Homo sapiens: one gene and its partners. The protein of the gene in region 3 purifies or fractionates together with the protein of the main gene of each other region. This does not show direct contact. Each region holds a gene or a part of one and is shown on either strand. Other genes may lie near its edges.

Region 1 (5,324 bases), on a different chromosome or scaffold from region 3:
AGATGTTGCAGTGAACGGAGATCATGCCATTGCACTCCAGCCTGGGCAACAAGAGCTAAACTCTGTCTCAAAAAAAAAAAGACATCTATCCAGAAACTCCTTCTAAACAATGTTTTGTAAATATAGTCACCACAAATTCTTTATAATGAATGATTTTGCTAAATAGAGCCTCTCTACTGGGTTAGCATTAAAAGTCGGTTCCTAAATACTATTTTAAGAAAAATCCATAGGAAAATGCTTATCCTGGTTACCAAAGAAATGCAAATCAAATAAGGTATCATTCTTTTTTTTTGGAGATGGAGTTTTGCTCTGTCGCCCAGGCTGGAGTGCAGTGGCGCGATCTCAGCTCACTACAACCTCCGCCTCCTGAGTTCAAGCGATTATCCTGCCTCAGTCTCCCGAGTGGCTGGGATTACAAGCGTGCTGCCACGCCCAGCTAATTTTTTATTTTTAGTAGAGATGGGGTTTCACCATGTTGGCCAGGATGCAGGATGGCTCGATCTCTTGACTTCGTGATCCGCCTGCTTCAGTCTCCCAAAGTGCTGGGATTACAGGCATGAGCCACTGCGACTGGCCCAAATAAGGTATCATTCTTACCAAAAAAATTAAAACTAAAACCAATGCAGGAACAGTGTAGTGAAATATATAAGTTATGAGTTGTAATATAGTAGAATATTACTCAACTTTGAAAAGAAAAGGATCTGTATGTACTGATATGGAACAATCTCTTAAAATATATTGTTTAAAAAAAAGTCAGACACTGAACTATGCTTCCACTTGTGTGTGTGTGGTTTTTTTTTTTTTTTTTTTTTTTTGAGACGGAGTCTCGGTCAGTCACCAGGCTGGAGTGCAGTGGCGCGATCTTGGCTCACTGCAACCTCTGCCTTCCGGTTCAAGCGATTCTCCTGCCTCAGCCTCCCGGGTAGCTAGGACTACAGGTGCGTGCCGCCATGCCCAGCTAATTTTTGTAATATTATTATTAATTTTTGAGACAGAGTATCTCTCTGTCATCCAGGCTGGAGTGTAGTGGTGCAATCTTGGCTCACTGCAAGCTCCGCCTCCCGGGTTCACGCCATTCTCCTGCCTCAGCCTCTCTAGTAGCTGGGACTACAGGCGCCCACCACCACATCTGGCTAATTTTTTGTATTTTTAGTAGAGACTGAGTTTCATTGTGTTAGCCAGGATGGTCTCGATCTCCTGACCTTGTGATCCGCCCACCTAGTCCTCCCAAAGTGCTGGGATTACAGGTGTGAGCCACCGTGCCCGGCCTCCACTTATGTTTTTAAAGGTGTTGCTATATCTATATATTTTAAATTTGCATATCATATCTCTAGATTCTAGAGATAAAATTCCTGTAGAACAGGGGTTGCAAACATTTTCTGTAAAGAGACAATAAATATGTTAGGCTTTGTGGGCCATGTGGTCTCTGTAGAAACTACTTATCTCTGCCATGGTAAGTGTGAAAACTCCCATAGGCAATATGTAAACAAATAGGCATGGCTGTGTTCCAGTACAATTTTTCTTTCCAAAGACAAGTAAGCCAGATTTGCCCCTGGGGTAGTTTTTTTGCCAGCCTTTTTTCTAGAGTTGTAATGAATATGAATCAACTGGTAGCAATGGGGAAGGGAATTTGGGTGATTAGGAGGTTCCTGGATGAGAGTGAGATTTGCTTTTCTATCCTATTACCCCTGTACTGAATGAATTTTTTAAATCTGTGCATGTATTTAAAAATATTAATTTATGAACACTAATTTATAACAGAGAGGCCGGGCGCAATTGCTCACGCCTGTAATTCCAGCACTTAGGGAAGCCAAGGCAGGCAGATCACCTGAGGTCAGGAGTTCGAGACCAGACTGGCCAACATGACGAAACCCCATCTCTACTAAAAATAGAAACATTAGCCGGACATGGTGGCGCATGCCTGTAATCCCAGATACTCAGGAGGCTGAGACAGGAAAATTGCTTGAACCCAGGAGGCAAAGGTTGCAGTGAGCTGAGATTGCACTGCTGCAGTCCAGCCTGGGCAACAGAGCAAGACCCCCATCTCAAAGGAAAAAAAAAAAAAAGGAGGCTGAGGCAGGAGAATGGCGTGAACCTGGAAGGCGGAGCTTGCAGTGAGCCGAGATCGCACCACTGCACTCCAGCCTGGGCGACAGAGTGAGACTCCGTCTCAAAAAAACAAACAGGCTGGGCGCGGTGGCTCACACCTGTAATCCCGGCATTTTGGGAGGCTGAGATGGGCGGATCATGAGGTCAGGAGATCGAGACCATCCTGGCTAACATGGTGAAACCCCATCTCTACTAAAAATACAAAAAAATTAGCCGGGCGTGGTGGCGGGCGCTTATAGTCCCAGCTACTGGGGGGGCTGAGGCAGGAGAATGGCGTGAACTCAGGAGGCAGAACTTTTAGTGAGCCAAGATCGAGCCACTGCACTCCAGCCTGGGCGACAGACAGAGCGAGACTTTGTCTCAAAAAACAAACAAACAAAAAAAAACGAAAAAAGGAAACAGTGAGAGACTTCCTCTGATGAAAATAACTAATGTGTTATTTGCTTTGTAAACCTAGTGGCGGAGAATGCAACAGTTGAGCTATGCACTGTTTTGATCCAACTTGAAGAAGCAATTAAGCCTCCCACTCTTGTCACCATTTACATGTACAAGAAAACTCCTAAGTACAGAAAGATGGAGGGATTAGGAGGGGACAAATGATTTTTGGATGGATTGCAGATTTTTCCTGTTTTGATACTTGTTTCACTGTTACAAAAAGTGTATTCTGTATTTTATTTCTGTGTCTTGTAGACTAGGCACAGTTCTTTCCCTCTTTGACCCACGCAGGAGCCTTCCCTGGTCTGTCCTTTTCATTACTTCTGTAGTTGGGCACTGTCTAGCTTCTTGAGCTACACTAGCTTTTCCTTTCTTCACATCGTAGAACTGTGAGAATTGACCACTGTTGTTGTAAGCTAAATGATTTTGGACAATATAGCGGAATTTTAGTTCAGAGGACTAGTATTTTCTGTCTATTGTTAGACATAAATTTTTATTAAGCTCTTGGTTTGGTCTCCCTTTTCCTTAGGTGCTGCTACATCCTCATCCTCCTCTTCACCTTCATCCAGTTCCATAACAGCTGCTGTTATGTTAACTTTAGCTGAACCGTCAATGTCCAGCGCATCACAAAATGGAATGTCAGTTGAGTGCAGGTGACAGCAGGACTTGCTAAAGCACTTTGCACTTAATGGCTGTTGAGGGCCACTTTTTTTTTATACTGCACAGTGGCACAAAAAAATATCAGACAAGCACTATTTTATATTTAAAAATTGTTTCTTGACAAGCTGACTTGGCACTTAAGTGCACTTTTTTATGAAGAAAAAGTACAATGAACTGCTTTTCCTCAAGCAATAATTGTTTCCAACTTGTCTGGGAATTGTGTGTCTGGTAACTGGAAGGCCTTCCACTGTGGCAAATGGAGGCTTTTCACTGCCTGTAGAGACAATACAGTAAGCATAGTTAAGGGGTGGGTCAGAACATGTTAAGATAACTTACTGTATATGTATTCCCTTGTATTTTGTTAAAGCTGGAACATTTGATATTTTTCCATTTATTTATGAAAAAATATGAACCTATTTTCATTTGTACAAGGTAATTGTTTTTTAAAGCAAGTCACCTTAGGGTGGCTTTAATTGTATAAGTCAAGCACATGTAATAAATTCAAAACCTGCAGTTAACAGGATATTAGACATCAATCCTGGTAACCAAATATTAAAGATTCTCTTTAAAAAAGACTGAACATGTTTACAGGTTTGAATTAGGCTAAAAGGTCTTGCAGTGGCTTTTCATGGCCCTTCAAATTGGAATGGAACTACTGTACTTTGCCATTTTTCTATAAATCAGTATTTTTTTTTAATTTTGATATACATTGTGTGAAAAAAGAAAATGGCTAATAAACTGTATTAAATCTTAAACAATGTATAAAGATTGTACTTAGCCAGTTCAAAGTGTATATTTATTCATAATGAATTATAACAGTTATATTTTTGTGTTTTCTTGTAAATGTTTCTTTTCCCTTAAATACAGATAATTCATTTGTATTGCTTATTTTATTATGAGCTACAACAAAAGGACTTCAGGAACAAGTAATGTATTAGTATGGTTCAAGATTGTTGATAGGAACTGTCTCAAAAGGATGGTGGTTATTTTAAATATAAATAGCTAATGGGGGTGGTAGGCCTATAAAATTAAATGCCTTGTATAAAATCCAAAATGAATGCAAAATTGTTTTCACTTGTATTGACTTTATGTTGTATGATTCCAATCTCTGTTCTGTTTGGCACTTGTATTTAATTCTTCACCTTTGTAAGACATTTGTATATTGTGGATGTGTTCATTCAAGCTATTTAATATCTGGCACTGTTAATACACAGTACTTTATTGTACAGACTGTTTTACTGTTTTAATTGTAGTTCTGTGTACTTTTTTTGGATGGGGCTGGCATGTTTTCTTTGTTTCCTGGCAATACGACGTGGGAATTTCAATGCGTTTTGTTGTAGATGCTAACGTGTCAGAATCCTTTACATTCAACTTTTCTAAGAAAAGCATTTTCAGTCTTGTAGTGTGTGCTTACAGTAACTAATTTTGTTGAAAATGGTTTCAAGTTATTCAAATTTGTACAGGACTGTAAAGATTTGTTGACAGCAAAATGTTGAAGAAAAAAGCTTATAGAATAAAAGCTATAAAGTATATATTAGGATCTGCAAACAATGAAGAATTATGTAATATATTGTACAAATGTAAGCAAAGGCTCTGAAATAAAATGCCATAGTTTGTGAATCCTTGATTTTTGTTTCTAAAAGATTTAGTAATTTTAGTTCATTTCTGTATGTGATGACTGACTGGAACATACATATCCAGCACGTATTATCACAGGGGATTAATTGATACACAAAAAAAGGAAGATTCTACCTATGAAAATTAAAAGTCCATTAATCAGATAAGGAATGTATTAGGCATTCTTTTTTTTTTTTTTTTTTTTGGACACGGAGTCTTGCTCTGTCACCCAGGCTAGAGTGCAGTGGCGCAATCTCCAGCTCACTGCAACCTCTATCTCCCGGGTTCAAGCAATTCTCCAGCTTCAGCCTTCCGAGTAGCTGGGATTATAGACATCTGCCAGCACTCCTGGCTAATTTTTGTATTTTTAGCAGAGACGGGGTTTCACCGTACTGGTCAGGCTGGTCTCAAACTCCTGACCTCATGTGATCCACCCACCTTGGCCTCCCAATGTGCTGGGATTACAGGCGGGAGCCAACACACCCAGCCTAGGCATTCTTTTA
Region 2 (7,546 bases), on a different chromosome or scaffold from region 3:
TGTGTTATGGCAGAATTTGACATTATCCTTCCTCGATCCCTGCCTTTTAAGATCTATAGCCCACAGTTTATGAGGAATCCTAAGAAATAAGCAGTCCCTACTTTTATACATACAATATATTTCTTCCTGAACACTATTGTTTAAAGCGAATTGCCATATGGCCAGATCCTAAGTGAACGTGTGTTACTGCCTTCATTAGGTTGGACATCAGCAGAAACTGTCAACTAAGTAGTGAGAAGTCAATGTGTTGGTCATTAAAAAGAACATTAAACAAATGGGCAAAATATCAAGATGCAGAAAGTGGGCACTGCTTATATAGGAGTTCTTCTATCTTAAAATTTGCACTGTAAGGATGAAAAGCTTTTTAAAAACAAATGCGAAGCAAGCTCTTCTAACAGCATCATCCCCAAAGGCTATGTGGTCTAAAAACCCACTAGCCCGAAACAGTTGGTTATATATTATACCTTGAAGTCTGTGTTGTTTACGTGTTCAAAAACCAAGGCGGGGGTTCGTGACTAGGGGAAAAGAACAAAAACAAAAACACACATTAGCAATAGCCCTGACAGCTTTAATGGGGACAATGTTTGCGGATGCTGCGTGGTGAAATTTGGCAGTCCTCGCCTCAGTAGTAAGAAACCCTCTATTGCTACAAGCCCTCCCCGCTCTGATCATCACCGCACTTAGGTCATTTTTGGGATGGATTTCAAACAGAAGACATGGAGCTGAAGTCTCACCAGGCTCTAGGCAGCCCGACAATGCGCCCATCGCCCATCGGCATCGGACCTGAGTTTGCAAAATGGATTAACACATTTCAGTTTCCAGTGCTATCAGTCTCTTAGCCTAGAAGAATAAGAAATAGTCTGTGGGTGGAGGTCTCTTTGAAAGAAAGACCCAAGCTAGTTAAATGGTATATCTGATTAAGCACTTTCAAAGCAGGACTTAATGATGAGGGTTGGGGGAGGGAACAAAAAGAGGCCAGTTGTGCTCCAGGTCAAACACCATCTCAGCTCTGGCGGGCCTTGCTAACACCTACTATACTCACCACAGGGTCTTTTACAATGTCTGCCAGTGTGATGATGTTGGGACCTCCTCTCAAATTCTCCAAAATCTTTATTTCACGCTTAATTTTCTTCTTTTTTACTGGCTGAAAGGGGAAAAGTACATCAGCAAAAAAAAAAAAAAAAAATTTTTTCAGAGTATTTCAACACGTAGTGTAATACATAAATGATAAATGGCTTACTTATGAGCACACCTTGAAGGAAGAAAATGTGTCACATTCGTCTCTGAATCCTTCTCCTAGCACTGTGCCAGGTATTCTGCAGGTACTTACAAATGTTGAATTGAAAGAAAAAAAGATTTCTATTCCAAAGACCAGACACTTCTGCAGAATTAGCATTTCAATCATCAGTCTTGATGTTAATGTTTTAAAACATGTTAAACATGTTAATGTCTTAAAACCTTACAAAGTAGCAATTTAAATCGTTAGTAATACTAAAGTATATCAAACTTTTTATCAATTAGGATGAAACATGGGCCCTTTCCATTTCTTCCTCTAATTAGGGCCAACAACAAGGATGGCCAAAACATCTTTGTGTAGCACAACCCTGAGGGTAAAGGGTGAGTCTTGGAGTCACAATGCCCAATGTGAAACCTACCTTTACTACCTGCTGGCTGTTAATGGCAAACTACATAACCTCTCTAAGCCTTTCATTAAGTGTAAAATGAGTAACAAGAGTACCCATCTCATAAGATTGTTGCAAGAATCAAATGAGGTATTCGAAAGATTTCGGAATATGGCTGAAACATAACATAATAATAACTGTCTAGCCTGATCACCAATGCTCTTTTTTTTTTTTTTTTTTTTTTGAGACAGAGTCTTGCTCTGTCACCCAGGCTGGAGTGCAGTGGTGCAATCTTGGCTCACTGCAACCTCCGCCTCCTGGGTTCACGCCATTCTCTTGCCTCAGCCTCCCGAGTAGCTGGGACTACAGGCACCCGCCACCAGGCCAGGCTAATTTTTGTATTTTTAGTAGAGACGGGGTTTCACCGTGTTAGCCAGGATGGTCTCGATCTCCTGACCTCGTGATCTGCCTGCCTCGGCCTCCCAAAGTGCCAATACTCTTATAAATGAACCCCTCCATTCTAAAGAGTATTCTGCAGAGCATATCTTAAACATTCCTTTGTCCTTACCCATTCTTTCCACATCTGTTCTAGTATGGAATCCTTTTCATTTTTTTCTGAGGAGGGCCTTGGTCCCACTGCACCTCCTTTATAAAGCCTTTTTTTTTTTTTGAGACAGAGTCTTGCTCTGTCGCCCAGGCTGGAGTGTAGTAGCATGATCTCAGCTCACTGCAACTTCCGCCTCCCGGGTTCAAGCAATTCTCCTGCCTCAGCCTCCCGAGTAGCTGGGATTACAGGCGCCAGCCACCATGCCCAGCTAATTTTTGTATTTTTAGTAGAGACAGGGTTTCATCATGTTGGTCAGGATCGTCTCGAACTCCTGACCTCATGATCCGCCTGCCTTGGCCTTCCAAAGTGCTGGGATTATAGGCATGAGCCACTGTGCCTGGGCTTATATTATAAAGCCTTCTCCTGAATAGTCTAAAACAGTGCTGGCCCAAAGGAAATATAATACAAACCACATGTGTAATTTTAAATGTGTTAGTAGCCACATCAAGAAAATTTTAAAAAGGACAAAATTAATGTACTTTATTAATCTAAAATCTTAACATATAAATCAATATAAAAATTATTAATCTATTTTACCTTTTTTTGTATTAAACCCTTGAAATCTAATGTATTTTACTCTTACAGCATATCTCAATTCAGCCCAGCCATATTTCAAGTGCTTAACAGCCTCATGTGGCCTGCGTGCCTGCTGTACTGGACTGTGCAGGTCTTTTCCTAGGGTGTTGGTCACCTCAGACTAGATGCACTGCATATAACTCTTAGAAGTTAAGTACATCTCATCTCTTCATTAACAAGATTGGTGGTTACTAAAGTTTGATGACCAACAATCACCTGGATTTTTTTAATATACAGACTCACAGAACCCACCAAGATTCACTAAATCAAAATCTTGAGAGGGAAACGGGGGATTTATTTTTAGATACTTTCCAGGCTGATGATCCAGGTCCAGAAACTACCAAATAATACTATAAATTCTTTTAACTTTGTCTTAAGCCTCAAGCACATGATAGCAGAAAGCAAGCAGATTTTGGAAACATTGACAGTTCTCAAAACCTGGCTTTGTGGTTGTGCAGTGTTCAGAAAAGCATTTAAATGTTTCTCACTGCTGAAAGGGACTATACTCGCCTGTTAGTGATTTACATACCACAGTTAGAACAGGTCCAATGCAAAGTGGTACCCAATAAACAGAAGCTATTTTACTAATGACTTCCATGTAGTCCATTGAATTCAACCCACGACCTCTTACCCAATACAATATCTACCTAAGAAACAAGATAATATAAGTCTTCTCTTCCTGCTTCAACTATTCAGATCTTTATAAACTGTTATATTATCTGGGAGATCTTTCCACCCTGCAGAGACTAACCCAACAACTTACCTCCTGTTTTCCATTAACCCAACTGCTGGTTTTTTAGTGGAAAAAAAAAGCTTCTGGTTGACAAAACTACTCTACAGAATGCTTCAAATCTATAAACTTAAAAAGCTGGTTTGTGACAGACCAGGCAGCTGACTCAGGCCCGAATTTAATGCGATCAATGCAACTTTTGTCTTATTAAATAGGGGAGATTAAAAATTTTAAATATGGTTTACAAAGGAAATTCATCTATACTTACACCACCTACCCACAGTTACAGTAAAATATACAATACAGTTAGAAAGACTGAGCTGAAAAAAATCTTTCTAAATCACCCTTCATTCAAAATCATCAAGGGCTCACAATTACCTAGAAGAGATAGTCATATAATTTTAAGACTGCAAGGAAATGCAGAGATTATTTTTTCCAGGCCTTCGCCAACTTAATCTCTCTTTCCAAGTTCAACTCCTATGTATGGTCACATAACATCTTTCACATGAAATATTTCTCTCACTTTTCCCTCCTCCTCTTTTCTTATCTTGGTGCACTCTACAGCCTGCTTCCCTTCACCACTTCCACCCAACACCTATCCAAATCCTCCTCCCATTCAGCCTGAAGACAGCTCCTGGGAGCTTTTCCTAACTACTACCCTCTTCTGAACTGTAGACCCACTATGCATGCTTTTCATGTGGCTCTAAATAATAATATATCACCTCATTCTATCATATACCTTTCCATATGAATATCACCATACAATCACAAAGAACTCCAGTCTCCAACGTATGTATATATACACACAATTTTGTGTTTGATCCTTTTTGTTTTTTGAGACAGGGTCTCATTCTCATCGCCCAGGCTGGAGTGCAGTGGTTTGATCATAGATCCGTGCAACCTTCAACTTCCAGGCTCAAGCGATCCTCCCACTTTAGCCCCTCGAGGACCTGCGACTAAAGGCACATGCCACCATGCTCAGCCAACATTCTTTTTAATAGATGGATAAACATGTCCTAGGTTAAAAGGACTACTATGGCTAGTCACCCACATGTTTTGATTTCCAACCTAGTTCTCTTTCTACATATTTCAAGACAGATATAAATACTTAAACTCTCTGGTTCTCAAAGGGCATGTGAAGCACCCCAGCAATGCACAGGAATACTGTGGAACACTTTACATTTTTGAGGAAGACACATCAACCCATCGTTGAATCTGCCAGACACTGGGTGCACTGCCAGCTTGAGGTGGTTCGTAGTTTCAACATTAGATTGTGTTACACTCCTCGTGATGGATTGTGTTATACTCCTCGCGATGGCATATTTTTGTGAAGCTGGGTTTGCAGTAGTTGCTGTGGTAAAAAGCAAGTACTGCACAAAAATCAATGACAGGAAATGAGGGTGGTGGTGTCCAACCAATGACAACATTTGAAAAGCTATGCAGCAACAGGTCTACATAACCCAACAGTAACAAATTATAGTTATATAAGAACAAATTTAACTTTTTTCTTTTAATTTATGTGAATAACTTTTTAAATGGCTACCAAGTTGCTAAGATATAAATACTTAGCGGGCAGGCGCAGTGGCTCACGCCTGTAATCCCAGCACTTTGGGAGGCCGAGGCGGGCGGATCACCTGAGGTCAGGAGTTTGAGACCAGCCTGACCAATATGGTGAAACCCCGTCTCTATTAAAATTACAAAAATTAGCCGGGCATTGCTGGCGTGCATCTGTAGTCCCAGCTACTTGGGAGGCTAAGGCAGGAGAATCGCTTGAACCCAGGAGGCGGAGGTTGCAGTGAGCCGAGATCGCGCCACTGCACTCCAGCCTGGGCGACAGAGCGAGACTCCTTCTCAAAACAAAAACAAAAACAATAAAAAAAACAAAACTTACTTAGCTATTTGGACCTTGCTACTTAATACAGAGAACTATGAGGTATTTCTTGACTTAGGAGTACCGTGAAAAATTAAAGACAGTATAAGTGTTATAAATTGAGAAAGTTTGGAAACTTCTACTTTTCAGTGTCAAATATGAAAAAGTTCCTGTGGTAAGGAACTATATGCTAAGTTCCCAATATATGACAGTGCACAGCATAGTTATAACTAAATTAAAAGTTGTATATTGGTCTCCCAGAGGCCAAATCTGGCCTGTGCATTGTTTTTTTAAAATCTTGAGCCAACACTTAAAAGTCAGGAAAATTCATATACAAATATAAATTTCTGGCTTTTATTTGCAAAACAGAGTATCAAGCAACAATGGACTTGCATTACTGCAGGGCAATCATCAGCTTCAGCTGAGAAGCAGCTAACTCCTTTTGAAGAGGCATGTGTTTCCCAGTTTGTTTCAGTCCCTACCACTCACATCACCTAAGCAAGGGCAATTACACCCGACTAGCTGCACTAATATCATCTGTCTGTCCCCCTCGAGTCCTGTGACTCCTCATCTTTACAAAGTAGAGGCAATGATTTATTTATTGAAAACAAAAGCCTCATTATATAATGAAAAGTAAAGGAAATAAGTATTAGGCAATAACTGGGAGAGAAGAGACTGTACCTTTGCTCCCTTACTCTGCCACAACCTAGCTATATGAGTCAACTCAAATCACTTCTCTTGCTTCAGTTTCCCGATCTGTCAAATAAGCAGAACTTGTTCTATTGAGTTCATAGGATACAATAAAATTTTATTTATTTGCTTTGGCACCAAAAACCTTTTAAATGCTGTTTTAAAAAAGTCTTCAAAACTACTTTTAAAAATCTATATTCCAAATACCTCTGAAATTATCTCTTGTACTCACCTTGAGAATTTTAACAACAACTTTTTCATTATTTGTGATGTTGATGGCTTCAAATACTTCACTGTATTTACCTCGGCCTAATTTTCGAACCAGCTGGTAGTCATCTTGATTTCTGTGGACACAAACAAAATGACTTATAAACGGTCAAATTATCAGCATCAATTCAAATTACAGGAATCTATTACCAGCAGCTGTAATAGAAATAAGAAGTATTTCAAACAATTCCCAAATAGGTTTTTTTTTTTTTTTTTTTTTTTTTGGAGATGGAGTCTCACTCTGTCGCCCAGGCTAGAGTGCAGTGGCGCGATCTCTGCTGACTGCCAGCTCCACCTCCCGGGTTCACACCATTCTCCTGCCTCAGCCTCCCGAGCAGCTGGGACCACAGGCGCCTGCCACCATGCCCGGCTAATTTTTTGAATTTTTAGTAGAGACGGCGGGTCCTCACCGTGTTAACCAGGATGGTCTCGATCTCCTGACCTCGTGATTCGTCCGCCTCGGCCTCCCAAAGTGCTGGGATTACAGGCGTGAGCCACCGCGCCTGGCCCATTGTATTTTTTTTTTTTTTAAATTAGGCCAATTAAAATACGTGTGTTTCAAATCCTAGAATTAGAAAAACTTATACCTTTCAATTATTCTTTCTAATCCCAAACTGTTTACATCTTTATTGGCACATGACATGGAGCTGGCTTGTATTAAGGTTTGTTCTAAATACGTTTGTCTCCAACAAGAGACAGCTTTCCCCAAGAGAATAATTTTTTTTTTTTTTTTTTTTTTTGAGACGGAGTCTTGCTCTGTCGCCCAGGCTGGAGTGCAGTGGCGTGATCTCGGCTCGCTGCAAGCCCCGCCTCCCAGGTTCACGCCATTCTCCTGCCTCAGCCTCCCCTAGTAGCTGGGACTACAGGCGCCCACCACCACGCCCGGCTAATTTTTTTGTATTTTTAGTAAAGACGGGGTTTCACCGTGTTAGCCAGGATGGTCTCGATCTCCTGACCTTGTGATCCGCCCGCCTTGGCCTCCCAAAGTGCTGGGATTACAGGCGTGAGCCACCGCACCCGGCCGGAGAATAATTTTTATATATTCTTGTCCCTTAGTGCTTGGTCCAGTGTTGGCACTTAGCAGGAACTAAAAACATTTTGCAAGACTGTTTCAATCTAGCCACACTTTGGCAGCAGCTGATTTTTAACAGGCCTCTTTGAAGGTAAATGGCTTTCAAATGTAT
Region 3 (8,359 bases):
AGCAAATGAGGCAAGGAAGGATCTGAGTCAAAGCTTTGACTTGAGGGCTGCTGAAGGTGGGGAAAGCTTTCGGATTGGGTGGCTTTGATAGAGAAAAGAAGCCTTCTCTTTCCCCAGCTATTCCTTCCACAAGAGGCACTTCTGCAGTCTCCAAACGCAGTATTACAACAGCCTCTGGGCCTCCCCTTGCTGCCTATAGGCACTTCTCTCTCAGTGCATCGTCAGAACCCATCTTTCTGCCAGGGTGCCAAACATCTTACACTATAGTTCTGGGTCTGTGGGCCTTGTGACCGTGCTGCCTGCACATTCTGCTGCGCACGTCCAAGAATTTTACTCAACTAAAAGTCTTAAACTGTTTGTTCCATCTCCCCACCCCTCCTTTTTTATTACTACAGCCACATATGAAGGTCCTTTTTTGCATTCACCCCTTTGTGTCCTTTGATGAAAATGACCTGCCCCTCCAATTTGCTGGATGAAATCTTTAAGACCCAACTTGAATGCCACCTCCTTCATGAAACCTTTCCCAATTCTCCTTCAGCGAAAAGGAATCTCTCTTCTCTGAGCTCCTATTTACATACACATTCCTATTTTCATACACATTCCTGCCTTGCCTTAGTTCCTTACGTAGAATCTCCTCGGCTGAATCTGGAGCCCTTGGAGGGGTAGAGTAAGCATGTCATCCAGTCTGTAATTGCACCCAGCAGCAGGTACGTATGAATGTCTGCCTCACCCACAGTAGGTGCTCAGGCAAGTGCCTGTTGCCCGCGGACGCAGGGCTTCCTGTTTGCATCACTCATTTTTAGTCGCCTAACAGAGCGGACCGAACACGGTTAGGTCACACAGCCACAGGAGTCTGCCCACTCCAGCCAGTGACTAGGGTGCTCCTACCCTTCTCTCCTACCTAGTTCCAAATGGGTTGTGTGTGTGAAGGAAGTTGGGGCCGGGTAGCTCCGCTGGCTCGTCCTCCGCGTCCACCCAGCGGATCTCCGAGTCCCAGGCGGCCTCCCCCCAGTCCGAGGACCTCAAGAAACTCGAGTCGGCGGCGAGGGAGCTATATGGGCCTCTACCACGGATGCGTCTCCCACTCGCGTTTAGTTTAATTAATTAATTTATATTTTTTGGAAGGAGGGGGCGTTCAATGAAGGGGAAGAGGCGGGGCGAAGGGCGGAGGCGGGCCCAGGGTGACTGACGTGAGCGCCGGGGAGCCAATAGCCCGTGGGGGGCGTTCCCCCCCATTCAGGACTCCTCGCCTGGCTCGGAAGGTATGTTAAACAGCTGCTTTTAATTTGGTCCCCCCAATCTCAGGCGTTTGGGGGGCTAGTCCGCCGGCCGCTCGGTCTGGCCGGCCCGACGTGGTGTGGGCCCTGCGGGCCCTGGGACCGAGCTGAGGGGAGGCTCGGAGTTCCGCGGCCGAGGTAGGCGAGGGACAGGCCAGGAAGGAGAGCTCTTGGCGCCGCCCGCTCGCCAGTGTGTGTGTTTCCCAGCCTGGCCGGAGCCGTGGGAGAGGGGTGGGCCTGGCCTGGGGTCGTCCCTGCGCCGGCCGTGTAGCCTAGTTTATCTCACCGAGCAGTCGGTTTCGGTAGGTTTTGGCGGCGGACTGGAGAAGGGGCGGGCAGGAGACCCCCGACTCCTGTTGTGCCGTTTTTTTAAAAAGAAAAATACTGGAAAGAAAAGGGGGATTCCGCACACCGACTAGAACCGGGCCGGAGCTGCGGCGTGCGGGCTCGGCAGGGGGCGGCGGCTCGAGCATGGTCGGCGGGGCCCACTGAGCTCGCGGCGCTCGGAGTTGCTCGAGAGCTGGAGTTAGCGAGCGAGCCGGGGCCCGCGGCTTCCCTGGCTACCCACGCTGGACAAGGGCGGCAGCCGCCCCGAGGGTTTTGTTTTTGCCCGCAAACTTGGAGGGGGCGGTGGGCGCGCTCCGGAGAGGCGCGGGCACTGTGGGCCCGCGGTTGTTATGGACTCTGGGGGCGGGGGCAACACCGGACTTGCGGGAGGGGCGGCCGGGGGCGGGAGAGGCCACCGGAAAGAGCCCCTGCGCCTCGCCGCTAGCCCTGCGAGCTGCCGGGTCTCCAAACTCCCTGGCCGTGGCGGTCGAGTCAGCATTCGGTGCCGGAACCCGTCAGGCCGCGACCCAGCAAGGAGCTCGCATCGGTGGTGCGGAAAACCCCCAGAAACTCGGCGGCTTCGTCCGCGGCCCCGGCTGATCCCCTTGCAAACATGGAGCTGCCTGCTTCCCCGCCCACCCCAAGGCGGCGGCGGCGACTGCTGCTCTCTTCCCCTCCCCCGACCGTGCCGCCGCCGGGCTCCCCCTTCCCGCGAGGTGCTGCTGCGGACCGCTCGGCGCGGATGGGGCGGGGGCGGGGGCGCGGGCGTGTGCGCGCCCACGAGGGGGTGGCCTGAAAGGGGCAGTGAAGGTCGGAAACTGGGAAAACAGTCTCCACGCTCGGAATCGGGAAAAGGAAATGCATCAGCGGGCGGGGAGGGGCGCGGGGGGCGCGCCTGTCAGCCGGGATGGCGGCCGCGGGCGGGTAGGCGGGGCGCCGGCGGGAACCGTCCCGGCCGGGCGGGGCGACGCCGGGAGAGGCGGCGCAGGGGCCCAGTCCACCGAGCGCCGGGCGGCCCTTGCCTGCACTCCTCGGCCCAGACTGTTTACTATCTACTCCGCCGGCGGCTTGTGCAACCCGCCTGCAGGGGAGCTGAGGGGCGGACCCCTTTCCTCTCTCCCACCCACCTCCGGCTCTCCCGGAGGCCCCGCCTTCTCTTGTCTTCCACTGGCTAGGCGAGACTCCCTTTTTTTCTCCTTCTTGGATGTGGATTGGATGACATTCTCCCGAGCTCCGCCTATCGGGAGGCCGGGCTGGAGTTTAAGTTGCTAGGATTTTTTTTTCGCGGAGGGAGGAGGGACGGTTCTTGCGGATGACGTGAGGCGCAAGGTCCCGCCCCCGCCTCTGATTGGTGGGGCGGGTAGCCCGGCCTCCTCCGGCGGAGAGAGCTGGGAGGGGAAGTCCACCCTTGCTCCCCGCCTCCCTCCGCTCTTGAGCGCGCTCCGCACATGTGTGAGGCCCGCCTAGCTCCTTCGAACTGCCCTCCCGCCCGGAAGTCCTAGGCTCGGCGCCCTTGGCGAGGGGGGCGGGGAGAGCCGAGAAGCCACACAAAGGTTCCACCGAGGCTCGAGACCTAGTAGCCTTCGGGGTGAAGCCAGGGGATTACAGTGCGGAGTGGATTTCGGGAGCGAAACTCCGGAGGTTCTGCTGGGTTTGAGATCTGCCTTTCGGGGCCGGGGCCAAGTACTAAAGTTCTAACCCTGTCGCTTGGCTATTTCCGTGCCCCTTGACTTCCCTGAGCTTAAGCTCGAGAACTCTGCAGACGCTGCAAGTGTCTGTTCTTTCCTAGGCATGGCAGCGGCTGTCCTTAGTTGGCTGTATCTGAGACTCTGACAACCTAGTGCCCTGGCCTGGGGCCCTTAGGCGAGATCTTAGCGCAGGTGGTACCCTGTGTTCACGGGAAGTCGTGGGCGGCCTAATGCTGGCTTGGGTTCTGAGTAGTTCTTGATACCATGGTGGGAATGCCCTGTGGTACTCAGTCTAGTGGTGGAAGGCGGCGCAAAGTTAAAAGTAGCCGTGGGTCAGTTCTGCTGGAGTGCCGCTTCCTCCTAACCTCCGAGCAGTTTGGCCCTGGGGTCGCTTCGTTGGTCTGACTTATTTTTAGAGCTCTGTCCTGGGGCAGGGCTTGGCTACTGGCGAGGCTGCTCCCACCTGTCGGCTACCCTTGGAGTTCACAATTCGCTGCTGTGGTTTCGCGGCTCGAAGCCATCGCTGGAGTCAGGCCCACCTGCTGCCAGAGCTCGTTCCTGGCCGTTTCCGCTGGATTGCAGAGGGAGGACAGTGTTGGACCTAGGCGTGGGTTCCCTGGGCGTGTCCCTTGGGGTCTTAGCTCTCTGGGAGGAGGGTTCTACTTATTCGGGAGAGCGGTAACAACGTAATCCCGTCACCTCTCCTGGCGCTGAGAGAGCGCCCCCCAAAGTAAGATCAGCGTCAGGCCCACGCCCTATTTGGTGAATAAATAAAAGCAAACTAGGAATTGAAAGCACTTTGTCTCACTGTGTGTTCGAGGCACTGTTACCTACACAGAGAGGGCACAGGAACTGCTATTAACACTCCCGGCCAAGGAGAAGGTGAACAGCCGTTATCTTATGTCCCCAACTACGGAAATTTTATCCATTCTCTGAGTGTGGCATGTCCCCAATGTTAATTTATGCCGTGGCCTGTTTTGGTGTTTTCCTCTCCTTTCTCAGTTCTGAGGATGCCTCCAGATCCACCCGGGAGATCGTGAGTACCTTGTGCCTCACGCTCCGCCTTCCGGAGGCTTGCCAGGGCGGTGGCTGTTAGAGCCCGCCTCTCTTTTGGTTATCTCCGCCCTCTTAGGACTGCATATTCAGCTCTAGGGAGTTTACTTCTCCGCCTAGGTCTCCAGACCTTAGTTCTGTACTCTACTTGGCTGAAAGGAGTTGCCAGCTGCTCCGGATATTTGTGTTTACAAGGACGCAGTGTGTAGAATGTAAACTGTAAAGATAACTGGACGGAAGGATGAGTTCTCATTCTCTCATTTTTTTTGTGAGGGAGTCCTCCATGGTGGGCTGCCTTTCCTTCAAATCCTAGGATGTGGAGTCTCCGCTGATGAGCTCCGCTCCCCCTCCTATCTCGGGCCCTGGAACTCCGAGCTTCAGTCTCTAGTGTAAACATTCCACAAAAGGACTGCTAAGGTTCAGCCTCCTCGCGCAGGGTGGAATTAGCTCCTTCCTAGACGGGCGCCCTGGCCAATGGAGGGTCCTACCAGCGCCAAGATATCCAATCCGACTCTTGGGGCGGGGCCTGGCCCGGCAGTGCGGTAGGCGGAGCCTGTTTCACTTACAGACATTTTACCCCACATCGGTTACTTACCTTACTGGGGCGGTGGGAGAGCCAGGGGTAGCCTTCCAATGCGATGACCAGCGGAGGCGGGAGCCAACTTGTTAGGCCTGTGGCTGAGACGCTGCAGGGCGGGTTATGTGGTGTCCTCCAATGAGACAGGAAGAGCTTCCCTGCTTCCTCCAATAGTGTTGGGGCTCGGGGGTGGGCTTCAGCAGTCCGTCTCCAATAGGCGGGGTTGAGTTAGGGAAGCTCCCCGCCAATAGGGGCGTGGAGAAGGAGAGCGGCTCCCCCTCCCCTACCAGTCGAGGGGGAAGGGGCGGGAAAATCATAAGACAGGCCTCGGTGGTTGGCTGAGTCTTTGACGGGCGGGTATTGCGTCCTGTATTGGAACGAAGCTGAGTCTTCCCTCTGCGGGGCGGGGTCGGGGGAGTGGGCGGGATTTCCCGGGTAACAGAGAAGCGGCCGCGGCGGTAGAGGCGGCGGAGACGGTTTCTCCATCTTCCCCCCTCCCCTTCCCCCCTCGGAGTTTCCCTCCCTCCCTCCCTCCCTCCTTCCCAGTCTGGGCACCGGAGCCTGTGACCGCTTCGTTAGTGGAGAGGTAGCTGGCAGTCCGCTTCGGCGGGCCTGTGCCCCGCGCCGTTCTCGGGGCCTCCCTGCTGAGCTCGCGGCTCACGCTGAGAGGGACACGCAGTGACGAGCGGCCGAAGCAGCTTTGCGGTGAGAGCACGCTGGGCCGGGGGCCGGGCGGGAGCCTGGTGGCGGGTAACGCCGGACTCGAGGGTGTGTATTTTGGGGGGGGGGGGCTGACCTCCTCGGCTTCCCGTAGAGCAGACGGGCGGGAGGTGTGTGGTTGTGTGAGGGGGGTGGGGGGCGGAGCGGGGTAGCTCTCCGCGCGGGAGGGGGAGGAGAGCGTAGTCCCGGTGCGCGCGGAGGGGGGCGGGCTCTCGCGCCGCCGCTCAGAGGCGGGGCCGGCGCGCGCGTGCGATTGTGGAGAAAGGGGCGGGGCCGGCTTCGCGCTGAGTGCAGTTTGCGGCCGACCACCCCCTCCCCTCCTCCTGGGGTGGGCGGGGCCTCGGGCTGGCGGCCGCGCTCTGGCCTGCTGGGGTCGGGGAGGGGTAGGGGGGGGTCTCCCGCGTGTAGATTCAGGGCGCGGCAGGGAGGGGGCGTGAAGTCTGAGTTCCTCCGCCTTCTTGGGATCCGGTTGGCCGGAGGGGCCGTACTGATCCGTGATGCCACTCCCCTTGGCCGTCCCCCCCTGCACCCCGCCCAGGCCCCGGGTTTCCGCCTCCTTGGCAATGAGGAGGTGCTAGGGAAAGCCCGCTGTCGGGTCTGGCTGGGAGTCTCGGCGCCTAGATCTGCCCCGCCCTATGTCTCCGTGGGGAGGGAGGGGCACCCGCCGACTGGGAGCTGTGGAGGTGTCAGGACTTACTCTTGTGGCTGGGTCATGCCTTCTGCCTGGGGGCACAAGGGCCCTGTGCCGGAGCTGCTTTCTCCGCTTTGCTCCATGCAGCGTGTCTGGCACCGTGCAGCCAGGAGAGTGGGAGCATGGTCACCCCCACTCCCCTCTTGGTTGTAACTATTGGGGCGAAGTGCCCAAGGTCCTCTTGTAGGAGCGTGCGTGGCTGGTGCTGGAACCCTAGATCCGCGGTGGTGATGGTAGGGGAGGGGCAGGGAGTCATCAGAGACTAGAAATGTGGCGGAGGGAAAACCTTCCCTGGGGTTCCCTTGATGTTCAGTTACCGTGGCTGTACGGGGCGGGGCTTCCTTTGAGCCAATGGGTGGTGGGTAGTAGACTTGGCGTCTGTTTCGGTGCGTTAGGACTTTAAACGAAGTTAGCCTTGAAAAGGCAGTGGAAGCTCCTCCTCTTTACAAGGCTGAGATTTATAACAGGAAAGTTTGGATTTACATTTTAATCTCAAAACTGGTCTGTTTATAAAGTAGGGTTTGTTTTTTTTTTTTAAGAACTCAGACTTTGAATAAAATACTCCGATATCTCTGACAGTTGTATTTTTGAATGCTTTCATTGTGCACATGGTTCTGCTATATAAACTTAGTTTCCTGGACGGGCGCGGTGGCTCATGCCTGTAATCCTAGCACTTTGGGAGGCCGAGGCAGGTGGATCACTTGAGGTCAGGAGTTCGAGACCAGCCAGGCTTACATGGCGAAACCCTGTTTCTACTAAAAATACAAAAAAAAGCTGGGCGTGGTGGCAAGCGCCTGTAATCCCAGCTACTGGGGAGGCTGAGGCAGGAGAATCACTTGAACCCGGGAGGCGAGGGTGCAGTGAGCCGAGATGGTGCCATTGCACTGTAGCCTGGGCGACAGGAGCAAAACTCCGCCTCAAAAAACAACCAAAAAAACTTGGTTTCCTAAAGAATTTGCTATTTAGGTAACTATAGGTGAAAAGTCTTTTCTTTTTTATTTTATGTACTTATGTTAGACCATCTAGACCACTTTCTATTTATACTCTACATAGTACAGTGTTGTTGCCCTTTTTATTTCAGAGGAGGGTGGAATTGTGGATCAGGGTAGCCTTCTGTATGTGACTTCTGTAGCGTTGCCCTCCAGCCTGTATTGGAGAGTTGCCTTAGGGCATTTCAGATTTAGATAGCAGAACCACATTAGATGAGGTTTTTGCTTTCACTTGATACATTATCTTTTCCTATTGAGAGAAATTATTTCAATGTTTTTCACATTTTTCATGAGAAAAATAAACATGGAACCAATGTTTATTTATGCAGTAATGTCTAAATGAGCCTCTGGTTAATTATCTGAAGTGAAATTCTAGATTTGTGCTTTGGTTAGTAGGGCCTGAGTGGTACCCTGTGCTATATTTATGTGAAAAGGGTAGGTGGGTCCTACCTTCTCTGCTAAGGAAGTTGCAAAAGCAATAGCATTTTAGTTTAGCAAATGATGGCTGTAATAGAATTGGTGGGGAGACAAAAAATCCAGGTGGTTTTTTCTGATGCCATAAACTGAGAGAGATAGTGGAGAACGATTGACCATTGAGGAAAATTTGGGCTACATATATAGTTCCCATGATTTGCAGTGCTGTATACTGGGGAACACAGAAGAGTCTATAAGGATTCAAGTAAGAACCTGGTTTTGCTGTATTAGGAACATTTTCATAAATGCTTCATAATCTCCAGATAATTATTTTATATACTATAATTTTGTTCAGAGATAAATAGCTTAGAAAGATTGGCACTTCGTAATTAAGAGGGTTTTAATAATTTACATACAGAGAAAGACTTTTTTTCTTTTTTAAGGAAGGAGGTGTGTAGTAATTTGACAAGATTCCTGGTGAAGTATAATTCTTTTTACATCTTCAGTGGGAGCAGACAAGACACTGGAGAGCTGTGCATGGCAGATGTTAGTACCTGGGAATTTTAACTGGAATTAAGAGGTTATATCCCTGGCATTCAGTAGTTTAGCATAGTGCTTTTCAT

The links. Proteins that work in one complex are often made in the same cells at the same time.
Region 1: the proteins of SIN3A (region 3) and ARID4B purify together in Homo sapiens (affinity purification with mass spectrometry; 5 studies listed by BioGRID, with this or other methods). This does not show direct contact.
Region 2: the proteins of SIN3A (region 3) and CSNK2A1 purify together in Homo sapiens (affinity purification with mass spectrometry; 5 studies listed by BioGRID and IntAct, with this or other methods). This does not show direct contact.

Annotation. Positions count from the first base shown.
Region 1 is NC_000001.11:235,166,402-235,171,725, reverse strand, and holds the end of ARID4B (AT-rich interactive domain-containing protein 4B), read left to right. Parts: intron 1-3,073; coding exon 3,074-3,201; 3' UTR 3,202-4,824; downstream 4,825-5,324. UniProt on the Homo sapiens protein: Acts as a transcriptional repressor. May function in the assembly and/or enzymatic activity of the Sin3A corepressor complex or in mediating interactions between the complex and other regulatory complexes.
Region 2 is NC_000020.11:498,791-506,336, forward strand, and holds part of CSNK2A1 (casein kinase II subunit alpha), read right to left. Parts: intron 6,440-7,546; coding exon 6,328-6,439; intron 1,145-6,327; coding exon 1,043-1,144; intron 516-1,042; coding exon 465-515; intron 1-464. UniProt on the Homo sapiens protein: Catalytic subunit of a constitutively active serine/threonine-protein kinase complex that phosphorylates a large number of substrates containing acidic residues C-terminal to the phosphorylated serine or threonine.
Region 3 is NC_000015.10:75,448,691-75,457,049, reverse strand, and holds the start of SIN3A (paired amphipathic helix protein Sin3a), read left to right. Parts: upstream 1-5,359; 5' UTR 5,360-5,627; exon of another isoform or gene 5,628-5,690; intron 5,691-8,359. UniProt on the Homo sapiens protein: Acts as a transcriptional repressor. Corepressor for REST. Interacts with MXI1 to repress MYC responsive genes and antagonize MYC oncogenic activities. Also interacts with MXD1-MAX heterodimers to repress transcription by tethering SIN3A to DNA.